Regions from separate parts of the Homo sapiens genome. Here region 1 is linked to region 2. The links come from fine-mapping of genetic effects on gene expression. A gene starts in region 2. The other region holds a variant in brackets. All regions are shown on one strand. Distances are between the middles of the regions. Region 1 overlaps GNPAT (glyceronephosphate O-acyltransferase). Region 2 holds the start of SPRTN (SprT-like N-terminal domain).

What was found. PIP is the estimated chance that this variant, and not a neighbour inherited with it, causes the effect.
Region 1: its variant is fine-mapped to the expression of SPRTN in activated naive CD4 T cells (Schmiedel 2018, PIP 0.95).

The regions. Positions count from the first base shown.
Region 1 is chr1:231,267,504-231,278,586 of GRCh38, reverse strand. It overlaps GNPAT (glyceronephosphate O-acyltransferase), which reads right to left. Exons shown (of 16, transcript NM_014236.4): 9 at 10,684-10,907; 10 at 7,587-7,829; 11 at 6,196-6,275; 12 at 4,525-4,665; 13 at 3,267-3,366; 14 at 3,089-3,182; 15 at 2,391-2,452; 16 at 614-1,088. The coding sequence ends at 1,045. Among named protein-coding and RNA genes, the nearest start is that of GNPAT, 32 kb to the right of the region's middle. The variant T/C (reference allele first, on the strand shown) is at 6,242.
Region 2 is chr1:231,333,432-231,344,365 of GRCh38, reverse strand. It overlaps SPRTN (SprT-like N-terminal domain), which reads right to left and starts at 6,073. Exons shown (of 5, transcript NM_032018.7): 1 at 5,762-6,073; 2 at 4,498-4,597. The coding sequence starts at 5,982. It overlaps EXOC8 (exocyst complex component 8), which reads left to right and starts at 6,514. Exons shown (of 1, transcript NM_175876.5): 1 at 6,514-10,934. The coding sequence starts at 6,621. The coding sequence ends at 8,798. RefSeq lists silencers at 4,789-4,838, 6,910-7,079 and enhancers at 4,587-5,461, 5,860-6,059, 5,462-6,336, 6,640-6,699, 6,740-6,789 and 1 more.

The DNA.
Region 1 (11,083 bases), 66 kb after region 2:
ACACCCAGAGGTCATTCTGAGCACACGGTAAGATGGCAGCCACCTACAAGCCCAGAAAGGGGCCTCAAAATGAACCTACTATGCAAGTACCTTGATCTGGGACTTTCAGTCTCCACAAATGTGAGAAAATAGGTCTGTGTTTAAGCTGCCTAAGCTGTGTTTAAGCTGTTGTGTTATGGCACCCTGAAACTGACTAATGCGCCTGCCTCTGTCTTCAATTTCACTATCTGTGACTCTTGTTCCAGCCATGTTGATCTTTTGGGAGCTCTGGAACCTGCCCCAGGACGTCCTGATCACTATTTTCTCCTGGCACACTGCACTCCACTGTCCCTTCCTCCGTCACTCCAACCCTGCCACTCTAGGGGCTGGCTCCTGCTCAATCCAGTTCTCAGCTTACATGTCACTTCCAGAGGTGGCTACTTGCCAAGGTTTCTGGTGTTACCTACTTACTCTAAATTTCTCTTCTCTTGAATTCTTACACATATTTATGGTGCATCACACAGCATCTTTTTGTTGCACATACTTGACTAATTCATTTTTGTTAATTAAGGCCCTAGGGTGGCCAACATTTAAAGTAAGCTAGCTAATTTATTAAATATCTCTTTCAAATTTGTACTTGTTTGAGGCAACTTTAATTAAAGCAAGCTACAAGTAACGTAGATATGCCCTTTTCATTTTCTTTTAATATCCAGAGCTTTCAGTGTTGTCATACTTTAATTCAAAAGTCAACATAAAAGTTTAATACATATAGTAAGCTGAAAAGTGTTAGTGAAATGAGCTGAGCTTTGCTTTTCCAAACATGTTTCCAAAAGTTTATTTTAAAACACACACATAGTGTCAGATACAAACGCCTTTTAACCACTGTGGTGGGGAAGAGTAAACTGATTGCTTCCAATGATCATCTCTTCCCTCTGCGTCCACTGTTCTCAGAGTCTCAGGGAGTATGAGAGGATGTGTCTCTTCCTTTACTTCCCTGTTTGTTGTAATGAGTCCTTCGATGAGAGTAATTACGTGACCGAATTTTCCATAACTATTTGTTGATTATTAAAGTTTTGCAGTGGCTGGTTTTCCTATTGGTGTCTTACAACCTAAGATGAAAAAAGAGAAGCAGCTCATGAAATGATGCTGATTTTGCCCTTCCTCATACAGCTGTTCCTTGGGCGACTGTCCAGGGGAGAAGCTGGAGACTTGTGCAGAGCTTCACAGGCTGGCCAGTACCCATGGGGACGCCAGCCCCCTCCACAAGGGAAGCGGTAGATGCTCCAAGAGGTGACAGCATGGCCAGAGCCACAGGGCCAGGGCCAGGAGTTGAACCCCGTCATGTTTTCTGAACTCCAGTCCAGTATGTTCACGCTCACATCACATCTGCTTTCCGTGATTAAGTAATTGATTCCGTCACCCTCACAGGGCGAGGTGTTTGTGGTTGTTTTAGGTATATGCACCTCTTCAGACACGATATAAATAGAAGACTGGGATTTCGACCTACATATTTTTTTCTACAAGGTCTAGTACTTCCGCCTTCCCGATATGCAACAACTACCCCACTGCCCTTCTACCCTTTTCTTCATCCATTCTCCTTTTCCGTATGCCCCATTCTGGTCTTCCGCAAATCCCAACAGACATTTATCTAAAGCTCTTCCATGCAGGTTTGACGAGGTACTGAATTAAGATTAGGTACAAAAACAGTACTTGGAAGACGATCCACTCAAGGACATCACGCCATTCAATATAATCAGCAGATTATTTTTTCCAAATGTTAACACCCTCCTTTCTAAAATGGCCGCATCATTGCTAGGAAAAGTGTTCTTGACCCCCTCTGATTGTACCTCTGTTTATGTCAACACTCAAGGACTCTTATGTCAAGGAAGACAACACTCAAGGACTCTTTTTGGACTAGACTATTTCTTCATAGCTGATAGGCTCTAGAGAAGAGTAAGGGTTGGATTATTCTCCCAAGGATGTGCTATCAGCCCTAATTCTGAGTTCAGAAAGTCTACATGATAGAGACACTGACACTAATCTCTCACTTGGGAAAGAAGCAATGCAAGACAGACAGTGAGAGCATCAAACAAAGAGTGGAGATGAGGTACTCTCTCTGAGGCAAGGATGTGAAGGGTCTGGGCCTCTGGCTGAGACCAGTCATGTTAGGGACTGACTCTTTCTACTGTGTAAGACTGCTTCTTTTATGCCTGCTGTGTTTTGTTAATTTTCTTTGTGCTTTCTCGTTAGCTTCCTTGAGAAAATTCCAGACTGCATAAGTAATTCCCTTTTATGTTAGAACTCTACTACTTACTGATCATTTTGATAAAGTATTTGGTGCCACAGTATACTTTCTTATTTTAATTCATCAACAAAATGTGAAAACTTGTATTTTATTAAACTGCACTTACCAAGCATTTCTTCTAATTTGGTTGTGGCAGGTTCATTCACATTAAATATACAGTTATTATTTCTAGGAGAAAATAATAAGCTTTATTATTACATAAACTCTGGGGAAAAGACAACTTTTATATTTTGTTCCTGACGTAGCTATTGTAAGACTACTTTTCAATTGCCTTCCTCAAGGCTGGGCCTAAGTAGTCGAAAGGCCTCAGGCTCCTGTCCCACCTCCTGGCTTCTTGCTTCATTCTTCTGACCACATAAGAGACATGACTGCCAGAGTTTACTATTAAGCTTTATCACTGTTAAATTCAACCACTTAGAAGAACATACATCTATATGTTTATATATACATATACAGGTATGTATCTATATATGTATTATGTGTGTATTTATGTGTGTCTACACTCATATGCCCACTACACTCCCGAAAATCTTTCTTGTAATTATAAATTTCAACATTAAGTCAAAGCAAAAATATTGGCCTAAAGTTATTTCTTCCTTTCTTTGCTTCAGTTGCATTTCTATTCATAACCACATACAATTTTCAGGATAACTCACACTGACTTAACTAATTAGAGGATGGATAAGGAAAGTAGAATATAGCATTTCCTAGATCATCCATTTCTATGTCTCTCTGGATTTTGAGCTCAAATGTCATTCATTTCCTTGTTCCTTGAGCACTCATGGGATCTTGTACAGTACTTACATCTTCTTCTTCTCCACTACTCCGAGCCTCACACAGGCTGCTAAGGCGTTTTTCTGCACATCAGAAGATAATACATCATAACATTGAGAGGTACCTAAAATTGGGGGTGAGGAAGAGTTAGTTGACCAGTTTCTATTCTCAACTAAAAGAAATCAGCACCCACAGAGCAGTGACTGACCTTGATCGAGAAGCTGACTTGTGAATTTTCTGACTGCAGCCAAGTACTGTTCCTCACTGAAGTGGTCCTCTTCTTCACTCAAAAGGTACTTGCAAATTATCTGATTTTAAGAGGAAGGATGAGGGGAACAGAAAGAGAAAAAGGATAGCCAAGTTCAACAGAATAGTAAATAACTTTACATTGCCCCTCTTAAGAGAAGGATATATCACAAGAGAGCAGCATAAAGACCCTCCAAGGAATGAGCCCAGAAAAACCAAAGAATTTTTAGGGCATCTCCTTTGAGTTTACATTTTACAATTAGAAAAAGATTTAAAATAATAATGACATTTATTAAAGTATAATTTCTCACTTCAAGGGGTACAAGTTAATTACCATCAGCTTCGTATCTCTTATGCTACTTGGGAAGAGAGGGGTCAGATTTTAATAACTTTGCTTTTTTTCTCTAAATACACCTAAGAAAGTACCATGCCCTAAAATACTTGATGATTTCTACTGTAGAACAGTGATTAAGGGTAGAACTAGCATTTATCAAATGCTCAGTAAGTGCTAGACTTTGTGCAAGGAGGCTGAATGAGTTATTTCACGGACCACAAGCACCAGGAAGTGGGTCCAGGTGCCCAGAGCCAGTGCATGTATTATATGAACAGAGCCGAGTCACAGCATCCTCTTCTCTCAAGCATGTGGAAGTCCTTCCTACAGTTTATGTTTCAGACTCTTTCTCTCCCGTTGAGTCCTGCCACAATTCCTGCTGGGCAACATACCATCCCATCTCTCTAACTACTCCCAAGAGCTCTGACAAACGCTTTCAGAACTTGCACTTGAACTTTTTCTTTCCAACATAAACATCTGGTAATCTGTAACTGACTTTATGTATCACTCAAGTCTTGCCTTTACTGAGTGCCTGATATATATCAAACCTCGAGGTTACATATTGACTGACATGAAGGCCTCATTAAGACATGAGACACAGTATGACAGATGATGCGTGGGTGTAACTGTGGTCCTGTGAATACTGTGACCATGGCATCACTAAGCTGTTGTCCTCTTGGGTCTGTAATGAACCAAGCTTCCTCCTGAATGCGGGGAGCAAGGTCTCACTGGTGAGGTGAAATCACTGATCGTATTAGTCACTCTCTCTCCTTCTTCCATTTGCCTGGGGAAGATACCTGCCCTTCAGACTGGAAATAAGCACAGGGTGAGAATGTCTTATTATATTTGATATGGGGGGCATGAAGGAGAACTTGCCAAATTTACATACCTGATAGCTTTCCACAAAAGGTTTAAAGAGTCCTACTAAAAATTCTAACACAGTATTTCCTTTCTCTGTAACTAGGATGTCTTTCGTAGTCACTTGTATGGCTTCACTTTTACAAAGCAGGTAACAGCCTTCTTCAAAGTCCTAGAAGGGAAGAGGAAGCCATAATGTTCATCTAGGTTAATGGGTATAGTGCCCATCTGAATACATGTACCCCCTCATCTAGGTTAATGGATACACTGCCTATCTGAATATATGCAGCCACATGCCCTCAGACAACAGAATACCAGCTATTTCCCCAACCTCCAGAACAATTCTGGTTGTGAGATAGTAGCCAGAGAAGCATCTGCTCTACATTCAAAATGTTTTCAAACACAACATTTCTGAGCCTTACAAATCACAACCTGGGTGATGGATTTTCTTTTACTTTGCAGAACCACTCCTTAATTTAAATAGGAAATACATACAGCAAGTCCTAAAAATACTTAGAATTATGCTATGGTTAAAAAATTTCTGGCTGGGCGCGGTGGCTCACGCCTGTAATCCCAGCACTTTGAGAGGCTGAGGCGGGCGGATCATGAAGTCAGGAGATCGAGACCATCCTGGCTAACACAGTGAAACCCCGTCTCTACTAAAAATATAAAAAATTAGCCGGGCGTAGTGGTGGGCGCCTGTAGTCCCTGCTACTTGGGAGGCTGAGGCAGGAGAATGGAGTGAACCCGGGAGGCAGAGCTTGCAGTGAGCTGAGATTGCGCCACTGCACTCTAGCCTGAGCGACAGAGCCAGACTCCACCTCAAAAAAAAAAAAAAAAAAAAAGTTTCCAACACTCCTGTTCCACTCCCTACAGAATCAAACCTCTTATCCTTAAAGCACACAAACACCTAACATGCCTCTCATCTACTGTCACTTCCCACTTCAACCCAGCAGCAGTCCAGCTCTGCGAGCCTGATGACCCCTCAGCTGTCTAGACCAGGCAGGACCAGCACTCACTACTCTCAAAGTAAAAGGCACTTGCCTGGGTGACTCATTCTAACAACTTGCTAACAGGAAAATGTGTGCTGATTTTGTTGTGTTTGGTTTCTTTTTTTTTGAGATGGAGTCTTCCTCTTGTCACCAGGCTGGAGTGCAGTGGCACAATCTTGGCTCACAGCAACCTCCACCTCCCGGGTTCAAGTGATTCTCCTGCCTCAGCCTCAGCCTCCTGAGTAGCTGGGACTACAGGCATGCGCCACCACGCCCAGCTAATTTTTGTATTTTTAGTACAGACGGGGTTTCACCATGTTGGCCAGGATGGTCTCGATCTCTTGACCTCGTGATCCGCCTGCCTCGGCCTCCCAAAGTGCTGGGATTACAGGCATGAGCCACTGCGCCCGGCTGTGTGCTGATTTTTAAACGTTTACTAAAATAAAGTTAGTTTAGTTGTAATGGCCACACTGATAGTTCAAAGAATGACTCTCCTCTCACCATATAATCCCTAAGTTATTAATTAAACTTGATCAAGAATCAAACTAGAGTCTGCTGAACTGTGAGCGCCCCAGTTTCTCTTGAAGTCTGCCCCACTTTGCCTTGAAGAAAGGGATGGCACACTGCCTGAGACACATCTGTGAATTCACCCCTAACATTTCTAGAACTCACACTGCAAACATACTTGCTCTTTGTTGTAAGCACTTTACCTTTAGTGTGTTTCCTGGAAGGAAGATGAACTCATCTGCAAAAACA[T/C]CACGTAGGAAGCGAAAGCAACTGTAGACATCCTCTGGAAATAAATGCATCATGTAAAATTACAACATTGCCCTTTAAACTTTAAGGGAGTACCAGGAAGTCCTTACTATCACAAAATGTATTTCAAAGGCATATTTTATTCATGTAACAGGGACAAGAATTAAGTCCCCTGAGGGAAGCTAAATTAAACCCAAATCTTACCCACAGAGCAAACTACGGTCTAGCATAGTTTGTTTTTTGTTTTTTGAGATGGAGTCTCGCTCTGTCACCCAGGCTGGAGTGCAATGGTGCAATCTTGGCTCACTGCAACCTCCGCCTCCTGGGGTCAAGCGATTCTCCAGCCTCAGCCTCCCAAGTAGCTGGGATTACAGGCACTCGCCGCCATGCCCAGCTAATTTTTGTATTTTAATAGAGACAGGGTTTCACCATGTTGGTCAGGCTGGACTCGAACTCCTGACATCGTGATCCTCCTACCACGGCCTACCAAAGTGCTGGGATTACAGGCGTGAGCCACTGCGCCCGGCCCTAGCATAGTTTTTAAATGATTGACTCTAACCTACAACCAGGCTTCTACTCAGCGAGACATCACAGTCCTTAGAGGCCAGGACGCTTCATTTTTCCCTACCCCATGGCTCCCTAGTAGGGAAGGAAAGGTACTGATTTCTTAATTTCCCTCTATATTCATATTTCCTGGTATCTTTATTATATCTGTAGCACTTTTCCTTAGAATCACTGTGGAGCTTTGAAAAGCCAAAACCAAAACCAAAACCAAACACCAATGGCTGGCCCATACCCCAGGTCAACTGAAGAAACTTTGGGGTGGGGCTCACTCCCCTAGTAATTCTAACATAGGGCCTTGACAGAACCCCCTGGCCTTGACTACAGGCTCCTGTGAACATGACGTGTACTGTACTCATTTTTATACTCCTGATACAATTAGAACAAGACCATGCATCTCGGGAGTACTCATCGACTGCTGACTGCTCATCTGCCCACCTGCCTTTGCTGGATCAGGGAGCTGGCACAGCCAAAACAGTGCCGCAGACCAGGAAGTGGAGAACTGTACTCAAATGCCAGATCCTTCTCTCAGTAATTATGCAACTTTCTAGGCCTCATTTTCCATATTTATAGAAGGAAAGGTTTAGATTATTTCCAGGTCCTCCCAATTCCAAAATTCGAAGCAGATGAACAAGTATTTGGGGAACAAAGCTAACTTTTTCTCAGTGATAGGCCTGCTCTTCACCGGCGTGAGGCTGAACATTACAAGGCTTCAAATGTGGCTCCCTAAATGGAATGGAATGGCCAGACCTCTTCTAAAAGTCAAGATTGCATTCCTGAAAATTACCTTTCCTGAACCCTGGTGTCATCTGCAATGCTACTGCTACTAAGGATGGGCGCACAAAAATGTTGAGCAGCTGGTTCCTATAAGCTGAGCACATGAGGAGAGTGATGTGCTGGAGCATAAGCCCATCGACCACTTCCGAGTCTCCGGAGTCCACTTTCAGAATCACCTGGTCTTTGACAAGGCTGGCAATGTTGGAATGCAGAAGAATGCTGGCCGGGACAACTTCTTCAGCAGGTTTATTATCTACACACAAAGACAATTCATTCAAACAAGATGGGTCACTGCAGGGAGTCTTAGGCCTAGCGTACGTTAACGTTATTAATGGTAACGTGACAGATGCTCATTTTCAAGTGACAGGTTTTACTGTCTACCAATTACGGTAATGATACCAAATCTGAAGAAAAATTTAAAAGTACTATTTCATAAATCAATTCTTTCTCTCTCTCTAAGGACATGTAACATACTTTCTTACCCCCAAAATTTGTCAGCCATTCTGAAAGGCACATCAGTTTCTACTCTGAAAATGAACACCACTTCTGTGTACTTCAGGAACCAAGGGAATCTAAAGTTTTCTAACAGCAAGTTACATAACTGGAAAGTCACATGCACGGGAATGTAAGAATACTAAGAAAAAGGCCCATGATTAGTGTATGAATACATTAAAACATACAACACACACACACATGCACACACACCCCTTGCTTAGACCCATACTAAAATGGTAAAAATATCACTTTGCAGTTTTCCCCAAATCAAAGATAACTAAAGGGGCAGCTCCATGGCAGTTGGTAGCTTATCACCTGACATATTGGCCTGCAGACAGCTGCCAGGCAGGTAGAATTACAGAAGCATAATGAAGAGATGGTGATATTTAACAAATATTCTCAGCACGGAAAATTATTCTGCAGTTAACCTGAGCCAAAGAGCTGGCTGGCAGTGGCACACTGCTCAAGTTGGGTGGCAAGTTCTGCTACTGCTTCAAGGCAGGGACAAGTGAGAGGTATGGCTTCCTCCTGGACTTGATCACATTCATTCTTGAACAACTTGCCTTGTCTCAGCTTGCTCAATTGAATAATATTTTATGTGAAATGATCATAAAAAGCTTGAGATATGAACATGCTTAGGAATGTGGGGTAATCTGCATAAAAAAAGAAAAAAGGAACAGAACTGTAGTGACACTGAACAGATACTCTTAGTTATGGATTAGTTATGGCATTTATCCCATCCTGAAAAAGCAAAACACTTTAGAAAAACAAGTACCTATGTTTTCATATGTTCCTGGGCCAAACAATGATGGGTTTGAGCCCTTTTAGCTATTTCTCATGACATCCAACACTTGCTACTTGTATCATAATTAACACATCCTTTGCCTCCTACCAGACCCAGCCCATCACAGCACTGAGAACAGGTGTCTGATTTGTCTCTCTCTTGGTGACTGGCATTTTTGTCAGTAAATCCTCCTCATCTCTTGGCTGTGCCCTGAGTGCCTCCACTGCTGCGGCTCAGGCATCTCAGGCATCCTGCATTTCTCATTGGGACAGAGCAGCCTCCTAACTTGTTTCTATACCTCCAGTCTTCTGATGGTGGATGGTGGGGAGGAGGCGGGGAGGTCCATCTTTATTTTCCATCTACCCACCACCCCATCTGGGCCAACACTTTAATATCACTGATGAATCTCTGGGGCCCAAGCCTCCCATCTTGCATTCCTCATCCCTGCCTTGGCGAGGATCCTCTCCTGGTCTTCCTGAAGGGTTCAAAAGTCGCTTCTGTGAAGTCTTCCTGAGTATGGTCCCTTTCCTCTGCAGCACTCTCAGGAACCCTCTGCAGCATGCATGTTGCTCCTTGTCTCTGTTCACTGAACCCTCACAACTTGTTTACACATTACCCACCCACCCTGCCCTCTGCAACCCAGGGGAACGTCCAGGATGGGGATGGCATCTTGTTCATCTTCATATCCCTGGTAGTACCCAGCACAGAGGAGGTATTCAGTATTGGGTTGATCAAAGAACAGTAGGTACTTGACTTCAAATAATTATCTGGTCTTTAAAAAAAAACGCATTTCCAACTGTAGCCTGTACAATTTTTTTTTTTTTTTGAGACGGAATCTCGCTCTATCACCCAGGCTGGAGTGCAGTGGCGCAATCTTGGCTCACTGCAATCTCTGCCTCCCAGGTTCAAGCAATTTTCCTGCCTCAGCCTCCCGAGTAGCTGGGATTACAGGTGCACGCCACCATGCCCGGCTAATTTTTGTGTTTTTAGTAGAGACGGAGTTTCACCATGTTGGTCAGGCTGGTCTGGAACTGCTGACCTCGTGATCCGCCCGCCTCAGCCTCCCAAAGTGCTGGGATTACAGGTGTGAGCCACCACGCCCGGCCTTTTTTTTTTTTTTTTGGAGATGGGGTCTCACTATGTTACTGAGGCTGGTCTCGAACTCCTGGGCTCAAGTGATCCTCCCACCTCAGCCTCCCAAGTAGCTGGGATTATAGGTGTGTACCACCATGCCTGGCTAGGATTCATGACTTTATTTTCCACCGTACTAGGTGCCAAGGAAATGGTATTCTAGTCCTCAAGATATTCAGAGTCTCGTAGTGGGAAATGACATGTAAACAATTATTCTCAAATAATCAACGTGCTGTGTTCACTGTGTCCTATAGTGATAAAAACAGATTTGGTGTCCTTTCTCTTTTTCTTTCTTTTTTGAGACAGAGTCTCGCTCTGTTGCCTAGCTGGAGTGCAGTGGCACAATCTCGGCTCACTGCAAGCTCCGCCTCCTGGGTTCATGCCATTCTCCTGCCTCAGCCTCCCGAGTAGCTGGGACTACAGGCGCCTACCACCACGCCTGGTTAATTTTTTCTATTTTTTAGTAGAGACGGGGTTTCACCGCGTTAGCCAGGATGGTCTCAATCTCCTGACCTCGTGATCCACCTGCCTTGGCCTCCCAAAGTGCTGGGATTACAGGTGTGAACCACCGCGCCCGGCCTGTCCTTTCTCTTTCTGAGCAATCCTTTGCTCAAGTCCTCTATAGATTTTTCAGGTCCAGGTTTTAACTCTTCCAAATTAAGCAAGCATTCTCAACACATATGTCCTACCTACATACCAGGCCAAATGAGAAACCCTCCAAATGCCTGGGTTAAGCCTTTTAGCCATAAAGTCTTTTCCACCAGAGCATCAAAGTCCATGGATGGCCGGTTCTGAAGCAGAACAGCAACTATTAGGGTCCAGGGGCTCAAAACCATGTTTTCAATTTGCAGAAGCTCCATTTTGTAGGCAACTTCAGTGACAAAGGCATGCATGTCCTCAGACTGTTTCTGAGGAATGTATCTAAAAGGAAGAGCACAGAGCAACAAATTACAGTTCTGTTACTTAGACAAATGGGGATGGAAAAAGACTCTAGACGTTTTAGAAGGCTTCTCATACTTTGTGCCAACTGAATTCTCTCAGGTCAGGTGCAAACAGTATTCCTTTGCTTTACTATAGTGTAATCTGACCATACATTT
Region 2 (10,934 bases):
CTGGCTAATTTTTTTTCAATTTTTTGTAGAGACAAGGTCTCACCATCTTACCCAGACAGGTCAACTCCTGGGCTCAAGCAATCCATCTATCTGATTACGTGCATGAGCCACTGTACCCAGCCAGAACTTTATTTTTCAAGTAAATGCCGCTCAACGAAGAAGACTCAAATTCAAGAAAGGTACTGCAAAAGTTTCTCAATGTTCTAAATTAGAGCAATGATAAAGATCTATTCTCATAAAGGAGAAACAAATTTAGGTTCCTGATTTTTGGTTCAATTTAATTAAACATTAAAAAACATCTTGAAAATGGTACTGAACTTTTTAAATATCTATCATTTTCCATATTTAGTCTTAATTCAAGGATCTATACACAACACAGTCCCAAAATACCTCTGTTTTCCATGACTGTTCTATCGGGTTAAAATGAACTACCTCTAGTCCTAAATATGCCCCCAGTTGTCTGAACTCACTTTTGTTCACATTATTCCCATGCTTTCTGCCAAGAGTAGCCTCCTGTCCTATCTCTGCTTGTCAAAAGTACAATTCGTCCTTTAATGCTCACCTCTCCATGTTTTAATCGCAGGAGTGATGAGTTGAATGGTAAAGGGGACAGAACAAGAGCCTTAGAGTCAGGGAAACTGGAACCTAAACCCACAATCACAGCATGAGACCTGGGACAGGCTCCAAGTGGCTCCTCATCCCTAAAATGGGATATCCTCATTTTGCATGGCTGTGGTAAAGACGACGTTTAGTCCAAAGTCTGACACACAATAGGTGCTCAATAGTGAGCAGCAGGAGTGGTGATGGTAGTAACAAAATGTACAGTTATAAAGCTTTTCTTGACCTCCTCAACCAGATAAAGTCTGTTCCTTTTCTGAACCCCCTTCTCTATGATTTAGGTAACTACAGTTGTGCCTCACTTGGCAGGGATATGTTCTGAAAAATCCATTGTTAGGCAATTTTGTCATTGTGCAAACATCTTAAGAGTGTACTTACACAAACCTAAATGGTATAGCCTATGTAATATATATATATATATACACACACCTAGGCTATAGAGTATATATACCTAGGCTATAGAGTATATATACCTAGGCTATAGGGTATATATACCTAGGCTATAGAGTATATATACCTAGGCTATAGAGTGTATATACCTAGGCTATAGAGTATATATACCTAGGCTATAGAGTATAGCCTGCCGCTCCTAGGCAACGAACCTGCACAGGATGTTACTGTACTGAATGCTGTAGGCAAGTGCAACATAATGGTAAGTATTTGTGCAACTAAATATAAAGAAGAAAAAAGGTACAATAAAAATATAGTCTTGGCCAGGTGTGGTGGCTCACGCCTGTAATCCCAGCACTTTGGGAGGCTGAGTCGGGCGGATCACGAGGTCAGGAGATTGAGACCATCCTGGCTAACATGATGAAACCCCGTCTCTAGTAAAAAAAATACAAAAAATTGGCCTGGCATGGTGGCGGGTGCCTGTAGTCCCAGCTATGTGGGAGGCTGACGCAGGAGAATGGCCTGAACCCGGGAGGCGGAGCTTGCAGTGAGTGGAGATGCGCCACTGTACTCCAGCCTGGGCAACAGAGCGAGACTCCATCTCAAAAAAAAAATAAATAAATATAGTCCTGGCCGGGCATGGTGGCTCATACCTGTAATCCCATTCACTTTGGGAGGCTGAGGCAGAAGGATCACCTGGGGTCAGGAGTTTGAGACCAGCCAACATGGTGAAACCCCGCCTCTACTAAAAATACAAAAATCAGCCAGGCGTGGTGGCGCACACCTTTAATCGCAGCTACTTGGGAGGCTGAGGTAGGAGGATCCCTTGAACCAGGGAGGCGGAGGCTGCAGTGAGCCGAGATCATATCATTGCACTCCAGCCTGGGCAACAAGAGCAAAACTCCATCTCAAAAAACAAAAAATAAAAATAAATAAATAAATAAAAATATGGTCTTATAATCTTATGGGACCACTGTTATATATGGGGCCTGTCATTGACGAAAATGTCATTTTGTAACTTTCTGCCAACAGGAAATGCTCACTTGATACTATTATACATTCCCCATTCTCTTCTCACCCACTACTTAAAAACATTTTTTTCTCATGTGTTTATGTAATCATTTACCCAATACATATTCATTAAGCAACTCTTCCAGTTAGGGCTCCTTCTAAGGCTGATTTGGTTAATCATGCTGTTCAACTTTTTAAAATGTGTATTATTTTTTTCCGCTTATTCATTGGGTTACTAAGAAGGTTGTGTTAACATTCTTCAAGTATGAGTCTGGGTGTCTTGGCTGACACCTGTAATCCCAGCACTTTGGGAGGCTGAGGCGGGAGGATTGCTTGGGCCTGGGAGGTTGAGGCTGTAGTGAGACAGGGTCTTGCTCTGTCACCCCAGGCTGTAGTGCTGTGGTGTGATCTCGGCTCACTGTAACCTCCACCTCCCGAGTTCATGCGATTCTTGTGCGTCAGCCTCCTGAGTAGCTGGTACTACAGGCTGTGTCACCACACGCAGCTAATTTTTGTATTTTTAGTAGAGACGGGGTTTCACCATGTTGGTCAGGCTGGTCTCAAACTCCTGGCCTCAAGTGATCCGCCTGTCTCAGCTTCCCAAAGTGCTGGGATTATGGGCGTGAGCCACCGCACCCAGCCTGATTGTATATTCTTTTTGCTTCTGCTAATTTATGCCTCATAAAATTTAAAGTTATGTTATTACTTTTGGAGAGATTATGTATTGTTGCTTAATAGATTATTTTATTATTATAAAATATCCCACTTTTCCTCTAGTAAAACTTCTTCCCTTGAAGTCTTTAGTCTGATACTAATACTGGTTGAACATCCCTAATTTGACAATCCAAAATCTGAAATGCTCCAAAATCTAAAACTTTTTGAGCACTTACAAGATGATTAAAGGTTAAGTTCTAAGGAAATGCTCACTAAAGCCATTTCAGATTTGGGACTTTTGGATTAGGGAAGCTCAACCAGTAAGTATAATGCAAATATTCCAAAGTAAAAAAAAAAAAAATCTGAAACACTTCTGGTCCCACTTTGGATAATGAGTACTCAACCTTATAGCCACAATAGTTTTCTGCTTTTAAGTGTTTGGATGATTACTTTTCCTCATCCTTTTAAACTTAAAATAAGTGTGTCTTTACTGTAAGCATGTCTCTTTTAATCTAGCATGCCATTCCATGTATTTAATGGAGTGTTTAGTCCACTTACATTTAACTGATATTTTGTTTACACCTACCTTTCTCTTTATCATCTGAGCTCTGTTCTTTTTCATTAATCAAGTATTTCTACTGTACCACTTTACATTTAGTAGCTACTTTTTAAACAAACTGTGGTAAAAAAAATTAACAAAATTCCCCAACTTACCCATTTTTATGTGTACAGTTCAGTGTTGAGTATATTCACACTGTTATGTAATCCATTGCCTTTTATTATCCTTAAAAACAGCATCTCTCATCTCCAAGCATGTTTTAACATGCTTCCCACCCCATGCTCAGAAACTACCACTGTGCTCTTTTGTACAGATAATTCTTTCTTTTTTTTTTTGAGACAGAGTTTCGCTCTTGTTGCCCAGGCTGGAATGCAATGGTACGGTCTCGGCTCACTGCAACCTCCGCCTCCCGGGTTCAAGAGATCCTCCTGCCTCAGCTCCCACTGCTCCATTCTGCTAGCAGAAGTAAGTACCAGCTCTAAATGTGAAGCGTGCCCTCACACTGGTTTGTGCTGCCAGCTCAGCTAGGTGTCCTGAGAGCACAGCAGTGTTGCAGCCCAACTGAGGAGAATCAAAATTTGTGTTTCTCAACAGGAACATGTGGATCCTGTTTTCTCTGTTTCTAAATAAGTAACTTAAGCCAGTTACTTAACCTCTCTGAACCTTAATTTCTTTACTCATAAAAATGAAAACAGCAACACATGAACATAAACAGGGCTGTTGTAAAATCAAAACAGATAATATACCTAGAAGGCTTTTATTTTTTTGAGACAGAGTCTTGCTCTGTCACCCAGGCTGGAGTGCAGTGGCGCGATCTCGGCTCATTGCAAGCTCCGCCTCCTCAGTTCATGCCATTCTCCTGCCTCAGCCTCCCGAGTAGCTGGGACTACAGGCGCCGGCCACCACGCCCGGCTAATTTTCTGTATTTTTTTTTTTGTAGAGACGGGGTTTCACCGTGTTGGCTAGGATGTTTTTGATCTTCTGACCTCGTGATCCGCCCGCCTCGGCCTCCCAAAGTGTCGGGATTACAGGCGTGAGCCAGCGTGCCCGGCCCCTAGAAGCCTTTTTTTTGTTTTTTTTTTTTTTACTATGAAGCACTATAAAAAACATAAGGTGTTCATTATTGTTTGCCCCATAATTCAAGCTTTCACTGAGGGCAAAGTGACTTTTTTTAACGATACATACAGGCGAATTCACAGCAGTCTAAATCATTGACAAGTATTTGTAAATTACTGCGCTAGGAAGCAAGTTTACACGAAAAATACCTCTACAAGATCCTTTCTTGGCCTCAACTTCAAAAGGGGTTCGCTGAGACGGATGGAACACATTCCACCCTTCCCTTCATAGCTGCATATCCCAGCACACCTAGAAAACAATCACCATAAAAATGTGTTACATTGGCCAAATATGCCCAAGTCCTTACACATTCTTGGGCAGTTCACACTAACTCAGTTGGCAGATGGCTTTCATGAAAGTATACCCCCCTTGGTTAGCAGATACTTGCATTTCACCTAATTAATTAGTTACAACCCCCGCGGGCGCCTCCCGCGATGGCTCCGATCCCCGCCGGGCAAGGAAGGAAAGCAGCGTGCTCTCACCACCCTGCTTGAGAAGGTGGAAGGCTGCAGGCACCTGCTAGAGACGCCAGGACCGTACCTGGTGTACAACGGGGACCTAGTGGAATACGATGCGGACCACATGGCCCAACTGCAGCTCCCCTTGCCCTAGCTAGGCTGCAACAGCTCAAAGGCAATCCTATTCTGCTACTCCCAGTCTCCTTCCGACAAGTTACAGTTCGGTGTTATTAACAAGCAGATATCTCCAGTAGCATATCTCCAAAATCATAACAGACGCCTGTATAAAGGAAATTGGTACTTTAAACACAATTTAATATCATATCTTAATTTGTTTGACAGTAGGTTGTTTTCTATCAACTCAAAAACAAGCATGCTGGGATACAACTGTATCTTAAACTTAACCCTGTTCACGTGCAGGAGTAGATTATTATTTCAAATAGGGATTTCTGAAATTTAGCGTGTAGAAAAAGAATCGTTTTAAAAGCATCACTGAAGATCCCCAATGCAACACACGAGCTAACTAAAGTGGGTTTCCTAACGGGAATAGAGGAGGAGAACACACATCCTTTGGCAGTTACTCTGCGTCCTCAGCACTTTCTTAGGTGCAGATTTGGTTGCTTCTCCCTTCTGGGTCCTACAGCACTATCATAAGGCAAATCAGGAACTTGTTATTTTCAAGTGAAGTGAGATTCAAATAAAAATCTCTTTTTTGTTACGGCCCTGAGTCCAACCGTGGCGGTGTGGTCTACACAGCTTTCTTATTGTTCGAGTGGGAGAAAAGGTAAGGAAGACAGAAACACGCCGAGGCAGGAATTGCCAGGTCCAAAACCAGACTCCCCTCATTTAACGCCCCCTGGGACCGTCGGACTAGAGAAAGGAGAGAAAACCAGGGCCGGGGGCTGCAGGAAAGCTGCCAGTCCCGCCTCTTTCCCCAGCGGGGCTCGGAACTCACAGGGTCATTCGCACGCTCCACTTCACCTCGACGGCCTCCAGCTGGCCCCAGAAGAATTGGTCGTTAAACTGAACAAACAGTGCCTGCAAGTCCGGTGTGGGGTCCACCAACTCCCACGACGCGTCCACTAGCGACAGGGACTCCTGGGCATGATCGCGCTCCGCCTCCTGCAAGTTCCACTCCTCCTGAAGCCGCAGTGCCAACATCAAGTCATCATCCATCGTTGCCAGGATCACAGGCGGGGTCCGCCGGCGTCAGGCTGGCTCCCCAGTTACGCCGCGACCCCAAGCCGCCTAGCCGAGGACCAGGACTAGCTCCTAGGAGATGCCGGCTCTCGAGACGGCCCGTCAATCCCGCGAGAGTTCGCGGAAACGCGCTTGAGAACGAGAACGGAGCTTACCCCAAACGCCGAAGCCAAGATTCTAGGGCTTTAAAAAAAGCAGTCAGCATGACACCTCCTAGTGGGCGCAGAACCTGGGCTCACAGGGCTCGGGCCCTACGAAGCTTTCAGGAAGCTAGTTTCAGCCTTTACTCTTTGCCGGTTATTTCAAACCTCAACGTCACGCTCGGTTCATGCGCAGTACCGAAATTTCTCTCGGCCTCTCCCTCCCCTCACTTCCGCAATAGCTCATCTTGCGCATGCGCTTTAACCGATGGCATTGCTGCGCAGGCGCAATGTCTGCGCTCGGCCCACTTGCGCAGGCGCAGTGTCTGACGCTCAGACCCGGCGCAGGCGTACTCGTCTCGTTCCCATTCCTGCTTCCTCAGCCCAGGAGCTCGGTTGGCCTTGGGTGGGTCTAGACAGCCGCGGCGGCTGCGGCGCCGATAGTGACAGTGAGTGCGTGAGACCCGGAGAGAAATGGCGATGGCGATGTCGGACAGTGGGGCGAGCCGCCTGCGTCGGCAGCTGGAGTCAGGGGGTTTTGAGGCGCGGCTGTACGTGAAGCAGCTCTCGCAGCAGTCGGATGGGGACCGGGACCTCCAGGAGCACCGGCAGCGCATCCAGGCGCTGGCGGAGGAGACGGCGCAGAACCTGAAGCGCAACGTCTACCAGAACTACCGGCAGTTCATAGAGACGGCCCGCGAGATCTCCTACCTGGAGAGCGAGATGTACCAGCTCAGCCATTTGCTGACCGAGCAGAAAAGCAGCCTGGAGAGCATCCCGCTTACGTTGCTGCCTGCCGCTGCTGCCGCCGGAGCCGCCGCCGCCTCTGGAGGGGAGGAGGGAGTCGGTGGGGCGGGGGGCCGAGACCACCTCCGAGGCCAGGCCGGCTTTTTCTCCACCCCCGGGGGTGCCTCCCGCGACGGCTCCGGTCCAGGCGAGGAAGGAAAGCAGCGCACTCTCACCACCCTGCTTGAGAAGGTGGAAGGCTGCAGGCATCTGCTGGAGACGCCGGGACAGTACTTGGTGTACAATGGGGACCTAGTGGAATACGATGCGGACCACATGGCCCAACTGCAGCGGGTGCACGGCTTTCTCATGAACGATTGCTTGTTGGTGGCTACCTGGCTGCCTCAGCGGCGTGGGATGTATCGCTACAACGCTCTCTATTCCCTAGATGGTTTGGCCGTAGTCAATGTCAAGGACAACCCGCCCATGAAGGACATGTTCAAGCTGCTTATGTTCCCCGAGAGCCGTATTTTCCAGGCCGAAAATGCTAAAATCAAACGAGAGTGGCTGGAAGTGCTGGAGGACACCAAGAGGGCCCTCAGTGAGAAAAGGCGAAGGGAGCAGGAGGAGGCAGCGGCCCCTCGAGGGCCACCCCAAGTGACTTCCAAGGCCACTAACCCATTTGAGGATGACGAAGAAGAAGAACCAGCTGTTCCTGAGGTAGAGGAAGAGAAGGTGGACCTCTCCATGGAATGGATCCAGGAGTTACCTGAAGACCTGGATGTCTGCATTGCGCAGAGAGACTTTGAAGGGGCGGTTGACCTGCTGGATAAATTGAACCATTACCTGGAAGATAAACCTAGCCCACCTCCTGTAAAAGAACTAAGGGCCAAAGTGGAGGAGCGAGTTCGACAGCTCACTGAGGTGCTAGTTTTCGAACTCTCCCCAGATCGTTCCCTGAGAGGTGGTCCGAAGGCTACTCGCAGAGCAGTTTCGCAACTGATCCGGCTGGGCCAGTGCACGAAGGCCTGTGAGCTATTTTTGAGAAACAGGGCAGCCGCTGTTCATACTGCAATTCGTCAGCTTCGCATCGAAGGTGCCACTTTACTCTATATTCATAAGCTGTGCCATGTCTTCTTTACCAGCCTTCTCGAGACTGCAAGAGAATTTGAGATCGATTTTGCAGGCACTGACAGCGGCTGCTACTCTGCCTTTGTGGTCTGGGCAAGATCAGCCATGGGCATGTTCGTGGATGCTTTTAGCAAGCAGGTGTTTGATAGTAAGGAGAGCCTCTCTACAGCAGCTGAGTGTGTAAAAGTGGCTAAGGAGCATTGCCAGCAACTGGGTGATATCGGACTGGATCTCACCTTCATCATCCATGCCCTTCTGGTGAAAGACATCCAAGGGGCCTTGCACAGTTACAAAGAAATCATCATTGAAGCCACTAAACATCGCAACTCTGAAGAGATGTGGAGGAGGATGAACTTGATGACGCCAGAAGCCCTGGGTAAGCTCAAAGAAGAGATGAAAAGTTGTGGGGTAAGTAACTTTGAGCAGTACACAGGGGATGACTGCTGGGTGAACCTAAGTTACACAGTGGTTGCTTTCACCAAACAGACCATGGGCTTCTTGGAAGAGGCCCTGAAGCTGTATTTCCCAGAGCTGCACATGGTACTTTTGGAGAGCCTGGTGGAAATCATTTTGGTTGCTGTTCAGCATGTGGATTATAGTCTTCGATGTGAGCAGGATCCAGAGAAGAAAGCTTTTATCAGACAGAATGCATCCTTTTTATATGAAACAGTCCTCCCTGTGGTGGAGAAAAGGTTTGAAGAAGGTGTGGGGAAACCTGCCAAGCAACTCCAAGATCTGAGGAATGCATCTAGACTTATTCGTGTGAATCCTGAAAGTACAACATCAGTGGTCTAATGCTTGGGTCTGTTTATATGTGTATATATGCAGAGAGAGAGCTTATATATTATTTATATTTATATTAAGTTGTATTAGCATACTCTATAGTTTCAAACACAACTTGAAAATTAAAAGTGCCCTCTTAAAAATACAAAAATCAAAAAGAGGAAAATAAGTTAAATTAAGCCCAAGTAACAAAAATACTGGAATTATTAAAACGTATAGTATGCTAGCTATCCTTTTAAATTATGCTAATTCTCTTCTTCTGAAATTATGGTCACACTATATACTATAGCATTTCGGTTTTATCCTTTGATAAAACTTTTCTTTTTTCTTTTTTTTTTTTGAGACAGGGTCTCACCCCGTCGCACAGGCTGGAGTGCAGTGGCAAAGTCTCGACTCACTGCAGCCTTGACCTCCCGGGCCCAGGTAGTCCTCCCACCTCAGCCTCCCATGTAGCAGGAACCACAGGCAGGCACCACCATACCCAGCTAATTTTTGTATTTTTTGTAGAGATGGGGTTTCGCCATGTTGCCCAGGCTAGTCTTTTCTTTCTTCTTTTTTTTTTTCCCCACAGTATATATTATACAGCAGTCATAATATCTATAAATACATAGAGTTTATGTTGTGAAGTTTCCCAGTTCACTGAAATGTTAGGTTTCCTAAAGGGTACAGTGCCGTATAAAACAACCTGCCTCATATATTTCTCCTCAAAACGTTGGACTATTTGGGAAAAGGAAAAGAGTTGGGAAAATTGGTTTTAAGGTAAGTTTTAGTCAAAAGAATTCTTTCTTGAAACTAGCTGGTTTGTGGATTCAGATACTCTGATCCTTACAGAATCCAAGAGGAAGCTTTCATAAAAACAATTCAGCAAATATTTCCAATATAATTTGAATGGCTAATTTTCAGTTGCTAATTAATTAGCAGCTTTGTAATACTTGATTTGGGAGCATTTACTTGGAAATCCTAAGGACTATAATAAAAGTTTTCAACATATTTCTAAATTGTGTGAGTTTCCAGCTGTAGCTTTTGTCTTTGTCACATTTTAAAAAATAATAAGCAAGACACATTGGGGACACTGGCAGCAGTTGCCAGGTTTTAGCTGCCACCGCTTCAGTATGAGATATAGCTGTCCCATCTTCCCCCATTCAGGGTAGGAGATATAGTGACCCAGACTTCATGCAAATGGAAAAAAAGTTTTAACTGAAATATTTATTTAGATTTCAGGGTCTAGATGGATGGGAAAGTAGAAAAACATATGCAAATCTCAGTGTTCTCACTATGACCACTCTGAGCAGAGATTTGGTTTTGTTTCCTTTTGTAACAAAGTGAAAACAGGTGAGACAATGTGCCCAAAACAAAGGGAAGAAGAGAACCTTCTGTGACTCCTAAAATGTTCCATGCTGCATTTTTGTTTCATTTTTTATTTTTCCTTGCTTTGTTTTTAAACATGAATATAATGCTTACTTCAAATTGTTTAGTAAAACAAAATAACTAAAGAAATGTGAGCTTCCCAAGGTTTCTAAACTATCGCTGTTGTATATTCTATAGCGTTCCTTATTCTTTGAGGGAAACTGTGCTTGCTGTGATCCATTTTGTCTCTAGCTTCTAGTTGTGATTCTTGTCCATAAGCACCAAATTTGATGCCCATGATTTCAAAAGGTCATTTCTTTTATCTGAATGAAAATGGTGGTACTAAGACTGTGAAAATTATGTGAAACCTAAAGTAGTTGCCAAAGTGGCTCAGGGTTGTAAAATTCATTGACTTAATTATTCATGTGCCAGATCAACCCCTTTATTTTCTCTTTAGCTGTGCATATTTAAAATATTGGAAAGTATCAGATTTACAGATTTTCTTTGACTAATTTTTTTCACATAACTTTAGGATTTTCGAAAGTTGTAACCATAACTGGATATCTTAGCTGAGCAAAGGCGGTTATAATTTGTCTTTTTAAGATCACTGGAAATTGATAAAATTTTGTGATAATTATGATTATTCTGTGCCATTTACAGTTTCTAATACTATACTGTATGAAATATGTATAAATATATGATGCTGAGTCTGTGGAATGATACTTCTGAAATCAAAATTCCTCATAAGGCATGAAGTTGTAAAAACTTGAATGTGTATAGTTAGATATTTAAATGGTTGCT